Homo sapiens: one gene and its partner. The protein of the gene in region 1 purifies or fractionates together with the protein of each later gene. This does not show direct contact. Each region holds a gene or a part of one and is shown on either strand. Other genes may lie near its edges. The genes, in order: ZMYND11 and PPIG.

Region 1 (7,240 bases):
CACCATTCATTATTGCTAATTTAAGATGTTCCCTCAAAGGACTTAGGCCATTGATATTGTTTGTAAAATAAGCGATTATCCCTTATGTCTATTATTTGTTTATCTAAAAATTAAGTTTTAAAATACCAAGAAAAGAAAAAATATATAATCCTGTAAGGATATTATATCAGGTACAACATAATATTTTAAAGTTCTCACCTTGTTACATTAGATGCTGTTTTTTTTATGCAAATGTCAAAGATTTCTGTCAGATATGTTGGAAAAAGAGCACTTTTAGTAAACTCTTTGCATACTATCTAAGTGTTTCATATATGTCTTTTACATGAATATAGACATAAGAATGATCAGATTTTGTACCTTTTTTTATTCTTTTTTTTTCAATAGAGCATTAAGAAGAAGAATACAAACAAACAGGAGATGGGCACATACCTCAGATTCATTGTCTCCCGCATGAAGGAGAGGGTGAGTCCTGCTCAGGGAATCTTTCAAAATATCCCAAAACACATTTTACTATGGTTCATTCTTTCAAAGTTGAATGATCGAGAAGTAACAAATATGTACATAGCAATATGAAGTGTGGAGAGCACCCCGTCATGTCATATTTCTTTTTTGCAGTAAACAGTTCTATAACAGGCAGTTAGATTTTCTTGTTTTGTCTGTTTTGGACATAGACATTTTGACATAAGCTACATGAGATTAGAAACATTTACATTTTTGAATTTCATTCATCAGAATGAACATTTTCATTGATGATGACTCTTTAAAATGAAAGGCAATTTTTCAAAATAACTATTCTATCACAACTTTAAGGAATGTCATATTAAACTATATAGTAGTATATGTACATTTTTTCTGTTAAGTTTTAAAGTACTTCCTCTGAGATTTTGCTTTAAAGGTAGAAAATATTGGCCGGGCGCCGTGGCTCCCGCCTGTAATCCCAGCACTTTGGGAGGCCAAGGCAGGAGGATTGCTTGAGCCCAGGAGTTCAAGACCAGCCTGGGCAAGATGGCAAGACCCTGTCTCTACAAAAATAAAAAATAAAAAGGTAGAAAATATTTTGAGCTTTAGGAATTGATGTCTTACCTGCCTTCCTTTAACCACATTTAAATTGATGTACTAACACCCTCTTAGGCTATAGATCTTAATAAAAAGGGGAAGGACAATAAACACCCGATGTACAGGAGGCTGGTGCACTCAGCTGTGGACGTTCCCACCATTCAAGAGGTAAAGTCGGTTTCTTTTATTTCCACTTCAAGTACATTTTCTTAACTAACAAGTTAAAGAATAATGTAGCAGTTAAGCAGATTTTGGTTGCTCTTCTTTCCTTGAAAGTGTACTTTTTTCCACTTCCTAAAACAAAAGACAGGCATAACTACCAAATGAAGCATTATTAATTTGTAAATTTCATGTGCTTACTCTAATGCAAATTAGGTGTCATCTTTAAAAGGCCTGGTTTTAAAGATGAGCAGCTTGTAGCTTCTTGATCCTTGTTGATTTAAGAAAATGCCTTACAGCCTGGGCAATTTAGCATTTCAGATGTAAAGAATGTTTTCCAGGTTTAGCAGTGGTACCTGAGAGTTCCTCTCAGAAAAAAAAGTAAAGCATAGAACTGATCTGCCGTCTTGGGAAACAATAAAATGAACAAAAAAAATTATGATTAGAAAAGTTAATTATTCTTAAAGGTCTTAATTTTACCAACTATAGCTGAGGATTGTTAGTTTGTTCACGTCCAGTAACAAATTGCAACAACATCCAGTAGAACACGTAGACATATTTGCAGTCAGGGTTACTGAATTACTGATTTTGCACCTCATGTGTCATGTTGGAAATTTAAAATCTTAACGCTTGGTCATTATAGCCTATAGGGAGACCACAGGAATAATTTTAAATCATCTTACAAGTTTCTTTTCTTTTTTTTTTTGAGACGGAGTCTCACTCTGTCGCCCAGGCTGGAGTGCAGTGGTGTGATCTTGGCTCACTGCAAGCTCTGCCTCCCGGGTTCACGCCATTCTCCTGCCTCAGCCTCCCGAGTAGCTGGGACTACAGGCGCCCGACACCACGCCCACCTAATTTTTTGTATTTTTAGTAGAGACGGGGTTTCACCGTTTTAGCCAGGATGGTCTCGATCTCCTGACCTCGTGATCTGCCCGCCTCGGCCTCCCAAAGTGCTGGGATTACAGGCGTGAGCCACCGCGCCCGGCCACAAGTTTCTTTAGTACCCAAGAAAGACTGTGGCTGTATTATTTCAATATAAGATAAGGGTAAATGAAGGTTTTTCCCTTAAAGTAACTGGTAAATCCTGGAACAAAACCAAGTAGTTTTAATTTTACCTCCTACCCCCAGCCATAGCCCCTTCTAAACTGTAAGACCTCTACAGAATATGTAAGAACCCAGACGCCCCTTCTTCCCCACTGCCTTTACTCATGCAGGTTCCTTCCTGTTGAAATCCTCTAAGATTTGTCACAGACAGGGACACCTGAGATGTTATTTTAAAATTATTTATAAACCAATTCCTAGCCCCAATTCAGAACTATAAATATATCTTAGTAGTTATGGTAAACTGTCACAGAGGCTAACAGTTCTGTTTTCAATCTCGATCCTCCTGTGTTGTAAAGAATGACAGGTGTGTGCTTAGGGTCTCACCGCCCACACTGGCCCAAGCATTCGTGCACTACCAAGCTTAGCAGCAGCTTTCTACATTATTGTCAAATGAGATGTTCAAGCCATTAAAGTTCACTCTGATAAATTAATGTAGTGTCTTTGTGGCTGCGGGATATCTGACCTGCCATGCTTCATTATACTATATTATTAAAACCGCAGGTGGCGTTGTTGGCTTCTTTTACACACATTCTCTGTCAATACTGTGGGATGGCAGTAGTCATCCTGATGTCATCCTAGAAAAGACTGCTTGTCCTGTGAACTTAGTCCAGACAAGTATTTTTACTGGTAACTCTTTTCGTCATTCTGTTTTTTGCCCTCTGCAGAAAGTGAATGAAGGGAAATACCGAAGTTATGAAGAGTTCAAAGCTGATGCCCAATTGCTTCTCCACAATACCGTGATTTTCTATGGAGGTTGAATATTTTTGTTTTTTTTGTATGCATTTTTAAACACACCATTTACATTCCATGTTGAACACTATCTTTTATAAAACATTACTTTCAAAGAATTAATACCTTAATGATCTACAAGTTTAGAGTATAAGGTTAGGAATATCTGGTGATATAGATTATAGAATGGACTGGCCAAAAACAAAATCATAGTATACTAAATGATGAAAACACAATTACTCTTTACAGTTTTATATGTATTTGTTTTAGCTGAGAGGTTTTTAATAAGCACTATGATTAATTCTGATCATTTCCCCACTAGTACCACATCATCCAAAGGTAAGGTCATTCTCTATACCCTGAGAATTAGTGGTTGTATTGGATGGAAAACAAAAGCTGCCTGTGTAATTTTATTTTGCTATCGTTATTTTAAATGGACATTTTGGTTTGAAATGGTAGATGTCTACTTTTGCAAACTGAAAGAAAAGGATAGTAACTTTGAGTCTTGTATTTGCAGACTATTGCTTATAGGTAATATCTATTTTTAATTACAGCAGACAGTGAGCAAGCTGACATTGCGAGGATGCTATATAAAGACACATGTCATGAGGTACTATTCATTGCCCAATAGTTATACTCTTTCTATAACTGAAATTAATTTATTTCAGGATTCCACTCTTATCTACATTTTAGTTGTGCCATTTCCTTTAAATGTCTTTTATTGCCGGGCGTGGGGGCTCACGCCTGTAATCCCAGCACTTTGGGAGGCCAAGTTGGGCGGATCACGAGATCAAGAGATCGAGACCATCCTGGCCAACATGGTGAAACCCTGTCTCTACTAAAAATACAAAAATTAGCTGGGTGTGGTGGTGTACGCCTGTAGTCCCAGCTACTCGGGAGGCTGAGGCAGGAGAATCGCTTGAACGTGGAAGGTGGAGGTTGCAGTGAGCCAAGATTGCGCCACTGCACCCCAGCCTGGTGACAAAATGAGATTCTGTCTCAAAACAAAACAAAAAAAGGTCTTTTATTTTCATGTTTGACATACATGAGGCAAAGGTAAGGACTGCTGTGATTGGCAGCAGATATTGTTACCTTCCTGAGGAATATTCAGTCTGAAGTGCTAACCAGTGAGGTCCGGGCAGGGCCCAGTCAGACCAGCCTCAGCTTCTGTTCCAACTGTGGCCTGAGACCAGCGACATGGTTCTAAGAGGACAGTGACAGGGTCTTCCAGTACCATTTATTGAAAACTTTAAAATTTAGGCTTAAAAGATTAAGAAACAAAATTCAACACTATTTATATACGTGAATGTTAATTTACATGGATACATTTTATATAGTTTAATGTGTATGTATATTTTATGTAGGCTAAAGTAGTTTCTTTTCTTTTTCAGCTGGATGAACTGCAGCTTTGCAAGAATTGCTTTTACTTGTCAAATGCTCGTCCTGACAACTGGTTCTGTTATCCTTGTGTATGTGAAATTTTTACCTCAAGTGTGTAACATACAGCTCTAAGGAAGTTTATTTCCAGTTTGGTTAAAGATTATAATTTTCTTCCTAAATTTTTAAAATATCATAGTATATATGGGTTTAATGAGTATAAACAACTGAAAAAAAGTAACAGGGCTTGTTATCCATTTCTGATTTTAAAATGAGATACTGAATAAAAATAAATATTGGGTCCTTTTTCTTTTTGAGACAGGGTCTCACTCTGTCGCCCAGGCTTGAGTGCAGTGGTGTGATCTCAGCTCACCGTAGCCTTGACCTCCTCCAGGCTCAAGTGATTCTCCCACCTCAGCCTCCAGAGTAGCTGGGACCACAGGCACACGCCACCACACCTGGCTAATTTTTGTATTTTTTGTAGAGATGGGGTTTTACCATGTTGCTCAGGCTGGTCTCAAACTCCTGAGTTCAAGCAGTCCTCCCGCCTCGGCCTTCCAAAGTGCTGGGATTACAGGCATGAGCCACCACACCCAGCGTCTGGGTCCCTTAATAAAGTGAATTTTTGTTTCTCCTTTCATCCTTTCACAAGAGACCTAAGGCTTTGCCTTTGTCTGTAGCTGTATAATTTCCCCAAAATAATACAGCTTCAAACCGTGCACTGACAAAGGGAATTCTGAGCATTCTTGGCCGGCAGCCTTGGCTGCCTGAGAGAAGCCAGCCCTGTGAAGACAGTACTGTGCCAGCCTAAAATTTCCCCATTTCTAACAAATTCCCAGGGGTGCTGGAGCTGCTGGCTCCCCAGCTGCACTTGGCCAAGCGGGTGCTCTTGTTTGCCACCGTCATACATGTGGATGGCCTTGCTCCAGTCCCGACCTCTTCTGAGGAATAAGGTTCATGTTGGCACTCTGATGCAAATATAAAATCAGTCAATCCCAGAAAAAAAATCTCGTATGTGTTTAGGAGTTATGAAAGAAATATTTTAGAAATAATGGATTATATGTGACTAGTTTAATATTAATGGTACACTTGCATTTAATACTTTAAAAGTAATATAACAAGGTAAAACATTTAATTTCCAGATACCTAATCATGAGCTGGTTTGGGCTAAAATGAAAGGTTTTGGGTTTTGGCCAGCCAAAGTCATGCAGAAAGAAGACAATCAAGTCGACGTTCGCTTCTTTGGCCACCACCACCAGAGGTAATTTGTGATCCCATGTTCAGCGGTCACAGCTGTGCTTATGAAGTCCTTAAGAAAGTTTGATGATTTCTCCATCAGAGATGCATGAAGTTTATTTTAAATTGGAAAAAAAAAACACATTATGCATCCAAGAATACGTTCCAAGATAAATTGTTTCCAGATATTTTTCAGATATTGTGTACTAAACAGGAATTTTTAATAACTGACACTGTTGAACTTCAGAAGCACATTACGGTTAAGACTGAATTTATAGTACAGTGGGCAGAAGGGCCTCAGAATGTGTCCATTCCATAATATGGTAATGGAATTACCATTACCATATTCACAGTTACTCTAGTTGCTCCAGCCATCTTCAAGGCTCAGTTAAAGACATATAGACTAAAATCGTCAATCTTGTGATCTTACAATGTGTGTAAATACCTGAAGCGTGCGTGGAAATAAGCCATAATAGGAATAAAGAATTCACATGCAATTTATTTGGTTCATTTAACACAGATATTGAGATAAGGTGAAAAAGTGACAGAAACCAGCTACATGATCTAAAAGTCATACTTTGTAAGGATTTAAATGAACAGTCCATGAGGTGTCTCCTGTCATGCCAGGAGGTTATTAGTGCATAGAGAAGCTACACAATGAGGGACCTTACTCCTCCCTGTGGTAAATTTTTACTTAGTCTTCATTAATTTAATTTAAACAGAAGTGTAGTTATAAGAAACCTATAAATACTGTAAATTTCCCAGAAGGTAGTTCTGTTCTTTCATAGGTAGATACACACTTACCTGACACTGTCATGTCAAGAAACATTAAATAATGATCCAATAAAATAACTCAATACAAAATGAATGTTTTAATTACATTAAGTGGTAATTTTTAACATATGCTTAATACATCATACTCGGATGGTTTCAGTTTCTTATCAGAATAGGCAAGGAAATAATGTATTTTTGGTAGGTTAGGGTAAGTCTTTATGTGAGATTGTGTTCTTGCTTCACTGTCTTCTACCCTAATCTTGATACATTAGTCAGTTTCTCTGAGCCTTAGCAAAATAAAGGCCTCATAAGAGTTTTTGTAAGGTTTAAAGAAATGTTGCTACAGAGAGACCTGAGCATAGTACCTAGCACATAGTGAGTACTCAATAAATGTCAGCTTTTATAATACAACAGATATTCAAGGAATAACGGGGGAAAGTTTGCTTCAATGTTTTTCACATTAAATAAAACACAGTTAACTTAGAAAAAACAAGAATTCAGTTATTTTTATAGCCATACTAATAGGTAAGAATAATCTGATAATTAGAACTTTTTATCTATATATTTTTCTTTTTCATCAACTTGCAAGTAGCTTTATACTGTCTTCAACCATGAGTGATATTAATAATGAGTTAACTTGTTAGATGTCATTCAGTATACTATGCAGAAAATATTTTTAAAGAATATTTGGGTTAGGCCAGGCACGGTGGCTCACGCCTGTAATCCCTGCACTTTGGGAGGCCGAGGCGGCTGGATCATGAGGTCAGGAGATCGAGACCATCCTGGATAACACAGTGAAACCCCG
Region 2 (5,796 bases), on another chromosome or scaffold:
TTATTTTAATGCACAGTTTGCAGTTCATTTGTTGCACTTGCATTTTATACATTTTCTTGGATAAAGCTTTTAAGAACACTCCAGATTTTGGGAGTTTAATAATATTCACGTGTTAACACATACAAACTACTGAATGTTCAGAAGGTTTTTACCTAGGTATATACCTTTCATTGTCAATATTCAGTATAACTAGGCATATATTTTCAATGACGCACTCTCAACTAAGTGCATTTTCCCTACATGTCTAATGTAAGAAAAAACAGCCCCCAAACTAGGTAATGTTTTACAGAATTCAATTAACATTTATGTTTACATGACTTCACCACTCTGTTATAGGCACAGGATCTATTACAGTGATCCTAATGCTGAAAAAAATGCGGAGGACTTAAGAAGCAAATGGTAGTGATCTAGTAGACAGTAATACAAATTCCGAGCTTAACCTTGAAAGTTTGCTGGGCAAAAGACACACTACAATCTGAAGTATTATGATTAAATATTTACATTAGAACATTCTCAAACCTGGAAATTTTCCCTGCTGGCTAAATTCTTAAAGCTCAGTATTGTTAAAACTTTGTTCAGTTTTTTCATAATGTAAATACCTGTATATCTGAGAGTAAAAGTATGTTTTAATTGGTTTATTTTCATTATTTAGCTTTTAATTTTTAAAAGGCTGGATAATACAATTTAAAAAATACAAAACCAAACTGTTTATTATAGTATAGTTTATTTAATACAATGTTTAACTATAAAAGTTAATACAGCTTCCAAGTTTCAATTTTGTAAAATGCAGTTTGCAGAAAAGTTCAACAATTACTAGACTAATGATAAGAGAAGCAGCATTTTGAAACTAATTTTACAATTGAGAAGACAACAGCTTTTTTTCTAAACTTCATTAAAAAAATATAATCACAGTGACTTTTGGGCTAGGAAAAGAAGTGCATTAACTTCATTTATGTTTTTTCCTTCCACAAAGAGAGCGGCCACAATTTTGTACATCCCACATACAAATACCCAATTCATTTATCTTTCAAAATACTATATACACACAAAAGGGGAAGAAAATATACAGCATGTGCTTTTGGTAACATATGGAATTTGCTTAAAGAAAAAAAGTCAGAAACACAAATCCACCCCACCACTCCCTCACATACCTTTTAAAACAAACTAAACCCCTCAACAACTCCCTACTCCAACCTTGTTGACGGAATTTTCTTATTCATGTCATTTTTCTTTTCCTTTAATATATACCTCTTTGTCACACAATAGGCCAAAGACTTTGCACTTGCCCGAATCCACTGAAGGCAGTTAGTTGGGAAGCTCACTATGGGCAGTTGTGCCAGTCAATGCTGTACTTCCTGGGGGCTTATTAATTTTTAAAACAAGTATTTGTAACAAAACACATCTTTTCACAATAAACAGCTTATCAACCTATAATCCTTATTCAATTGTAAATGTATAAATCCAAAATGAAATAATTACAGTAAACATAATCAAAAGGAAACAGAAGAACACCCATTTTGTTTCTTTATAACAAATCAGCTATGGTAGGTATTTAAAGTACCTTCTGGTGAAGGCAAACCCAACAAGCTTCTACAGAAATTTAGTATAAAAAGTTTAGTGTGATGAAAACTATATTACCAACTGGAATGAAGTACAATAAACTACTAACAAACATACTAACTTGCTACATATACTAACTAAAATAAATTAGAATTGTCAAGTTAATACCACTACCCAAAATACCAGAGATCCAATATGTGCCTATCCATAATGAAGAGTTCTTTAATTGTTTAGCTCCATACCTTCCACTAGGCACAAATATCAAAGGTCATTCCGCAAAGCCGTCCATGCATCAGTATCACATTTGTGCAAAGGCAGATTTATCAGATAAATTCTTTGCAACTTCTGAGGGCTTCAATTAAGTAACTTAAAACTATGAACTTACCAACTATGTAGTAATTTAATCAAAGAATGTTTTAAAGCAATCCAGTAGCTTCTCTACTGCTCATTTCATTAACATTAATCTCACCATAGTGTCAATTTCTGTGGCAGATGGCTTACCCAGAAAAATAATTCATACAAAATAACCATGAAAATTCTACATATTGAAAAAATTTTCTCAGCTATCACCAATTGAGCAATAAATCAGTTTAAATATTTTTAAAAGGATATTAAGTCAAAAATACTTTGACATGAACCATAAATTTAGACATAACTATAAAACCAACTTGATGGGAAAGTAATAGTTGACTTTTAGGAAAACAATGTTCAAAGCAAAAACTAAAGATGGCACAACTACTAAATGTAACAAAAGGAAAGGACCATTTGAGCCGTGTGCTATTCAGATGCATGCGCAGATCCTGAGGTACAGTTAATGCTGTTTAATCATTTTAAAAATGTTCTTTATATTCTAAAAATAAAATCTAGTTGATTGTCCTCTCAACTCCTTCACATCTGTTCTGTAAAGAGAGCTAATAAAACTTTAAAATAAGGACTATAAATAATGCGGAGCATGGAGTTGCTCTTTTGATAACCCAAACAGAATATTGCCTATAGAAATTACTACAATTTTTTTCCCTATGGTTACTTTTTGAAACTCTAAGATTTGGAAATCCTTATGTATAATTTTTAGTAGATAAAGCTCTGGGATCAGACAACATGTAAGAATTTTTACTTAGCATGGACTTAAAAAAAATATTTAACTGTTATTAGAAATCCTTTCTTAAATAGCACCTTTCTTAAAGCTCAAATAGTTTATAACAACAATTTTAAAATGCAGTTAACTGAAATTAAGACAAACAATAACTTGCTTAAACTACATAACGTTATATAGCTTGGGCACTCAGACTCAATTATCCCTAATGTGGGTTTGTGGTCAGTCTCTAAGGAATCAATCACCTTGGATTTTATAATAAACATCTACTACTTTTATCATCGGAAAAAAAAATTTTGGAAAGAATTCATTGTGGATATCTGTATTACAATTTTCCAAGCAATCTTATGGTCATTACACTATTCATTCTGCAACAGCTACCACAACGCCAAATATATCAATATTGCATTAATCAATAGTGGGAAGTATCATGTTAATAATTGCTTTATTCAGTACAAATAGCATTGAGTAGCTACTGGATTTACCAAGAAGCTACCTTGGTAACAGAGTTGACACTACACTGACAAATATTAAAGTACAAAACTCTCTAGAGAATCCTATTAATTGGAATTTTGAAATTCCTTTTCAAATGAGGCAGGTTTTATGTTTGCTGGATGTTCAATGTTTTATTTAGAAGAGATTACAGAATAAAAGGCCACACATCACAAAAATGGCAAAATACAACACCCAAAACTCTAAATGGACTTTGGATATGTTTAGTGTTTAACTCTGTAAACTATCAAAATTTGCAACTTTCTACTCTACTCTATATGGCAATGTTATACATGCCAAGTTAAAATAACATTAACAGTAATGGTATAAAACCACCTGAAGAGAAAGAAACCAGAGTCATAAACATGCTATAGCCTATCGTGATACATATATAGAAAAGATGCATTTTCTTGCCATTTGGAACTCACAGCTATGAGAGTTAGAGAAGTCAGTTCAATTAAAACAAACAAAATCCATGCAGAGTTAACACTCAATTCTATATAGGTTGGAGGCCAAAAAAGAGAAATCTTAGAAGTTAATGTCTCAATACTAACAATTTTTAGAATCTGTATAGCTTAAGGACCTGCACAAATGGTATGTTTTAATGAGAAAAGCTTTTTTTTTTTTAAAGTTTAGAGAAGGGTAATTAATAATTAAAACGTTCCCAAAACTCTTCAAACCAAAAGCAACACAGAACTGAGAATCACAATCTGATTTTCCAAGGTATAGTTCCTGTCAAATGCTGTATAACAGCAACTCAAGCTCAATCAGTACATCAACTGAAAAAAATTACTCTTACGATTTTTATAGGCAGTTAAGTAAAACACAACTAGACAGGAAAAGCATTAATAGGAAACAAGCTATGGCTCGAACTATAAAGAATAGAGTATGAAGTGCAATATAAATACATCTATTTTAAAGCACAAATTACTATAAAATCAAAAGTGATGATTTAAGATCTCAGGTTATTAGGACCCTGCTTCTGTGTAATTAAAAGAAACCGCTGCAAACCTCTATTTATAACGCAATCAGAAAATCTATACAAGATGTCTTCTAGTGGCTTCTAAAGTTACTTTAATCATGAGAAACACAAGCTTTTGCAACAATGCATTGCAACCATTCCAAATGGCTGACTAAACAAATTAGGATGCTATTGGCTAATTGTTGCAACACAGTAATGCATACATAAAATAGTTAAACACAGCACACAGTACTACACCAAAGTGTTTTTCTCATGTCGAGTTTATTAAAACTTTAGCAGTACAAATTATCCAGATTGCAGATTATCAAAAAATCAACTCAATGAAATCCACATTAAGAAAAAAAAGGACAAACATAAAACAATCCAAAAACAATGAAAAGGAAAACAACATAAAGGAGATTCATTAGCAAGTCTCTCAAACTTAAAATCCGAAACAGAATGGAAGTAAGTTTATATAACTCACTCATCCGCTTTTGTCTTCATCTGTTCCAGGGCTTGATTCATGATCAAATTTTTTATTTTTTTCATGTACATGGTCATTTTCTTGACCTTTTGATTTTTGGTTTTCTTTTTCCACTGAGGATCTGATCTTCTCATCCTCCTTATTTTTCAACATGGAGGACTTTAATTCATTGTCCTGACTGCTTTGTTTTATTTTTGAGAAGGGACTTTGATCTCTATCAGCCTTTTTTTCCCTGCTGTTATTTGAGCTATTATGATCACGACTTTTAGAGTACATTCTTTTCTCACTCTCAGAATTTTCTTTTCTGTGTGAGCTCTTACTCTCTTGGTTTCTGTATTTGTCTTTGTTTCTGCTTTGACTTTCTTCTCTCTCTGAGCTCCGTGAGTCTCTCCTCCTTCTCCTCCTATCTTTACTTCTTGATCTTCCTGGTGGTGTTCTTCTCTCTCGGCTTCGTGACCGTCCTCTTCTCCTGTATTCCTGTTCTCTGTATCTATGGTACTCCTTGCTTCTGCTGCGATCTCTGTCATGGGTTCTTGATCGCACTCTTCTGCTTCTGTCCCTACTTCTGCTTCGTTCTCTTGTTCTGCTATTATAACTGTGTTTACCTTTAGTTATATCACATTCTCTACTCCTGGATTGTGCGCGTCTATCCTTTTCCTTACTTTTACTGTGATCATGCTCATTACTCTTTGATTCTAACTGTTTAGACTTCTCTTTACTTCTACTCCTTTCCTGATCTTTTCCTTTAGAATCAGACTGCTTTTCTTTTTCTTTAACATTTTCATGATCCCTTCCTTTACTCCTTGACCTCATCCTCTTTTCTTCATTTCTATTATGTTTTGAATCTCTTTCTTTACTCTTTGATTTCTCTTTGCTCTTACTCCTACTTTTAGATTTGGCCCTTTTCTTCACTTTGTTTTTATACTTGTCATCTTTTTCTGAATTTCTTCTGATGTCTCTCTCTTTGCTGTTAGATTTATGGTCTTTAACTTTCTTCTCCTTTTCATTTTTTCTGTTTGGACTCTCAGATACATTCCTGTGATCTGTTATTTTTCTCTCTTTTACTCTAACTGGACTTCTCTGATTTTCTTTTATTTCATTCAACTCACTCCTAAAAAATAAGAAAAAGAATTGGGGAAATGTTATTAGGAAAAGAACTGTAGATATTATTAGCTAAAATGATATTCTACTTTTCTTAAGGTATTC

The links.
Region 2: the proteins of ZMYND11 (region 1) and PPIG purify together in Homo sapiens (affinity purification with mass spectrometry, with the first as the bait; 2 studies listed by BioGRID). This does not show direct contact.

Annotation. Positions count from the first base shown.
Region 1 is NC_000010.11:236,454-243,693, forward strand, and holds part of ZMYND11 (zinc finger MYND domain-containing protein 11), read left to right. Parts: intron 1-384; coding exon 385-462; intron 463-1,131; coding exon 1,132-1,224; intron 1,225-2,984; coding exon 2,985-3,072; intron 3,073-3,602; coding exon 3,603-3,658; intron 3,659-4,439; coding exon 4,440-4,517; intron 4,518-5,567; coding exon 5,568-5,686; intron 5,687-6,140; exon of another isoform or gene 6,141-7,240. UniProt on the Homo sapiens protein: Chromatin reader that specifically recognizes and binds histone H3.3 trimethylated at 'Lys-36' (H3.3K36me3) and regulates RNA polymerase II elongation. Does not bind other histone H3 subtypes (H3.1 or H3.2).
Region 2 is NC_000002.12:169,636,318-169,642,113, reverse strand, and holds the end of PPIG (peptidyl-prolyl cis-trans isomerase G), read right to left. Parts: intron 5,702-5,796; coding exon 4,591-5,701; 3' UTR 708-4,590; downstream 1-707. UniProt on the Homo sapiens protein: PPIase that catalyzes the cis-trans isomerization of proline imidic peptide bonds in oligopeptides and may therefore assist protein folding. May be implicated in the folding, transport, and assembly of proteins.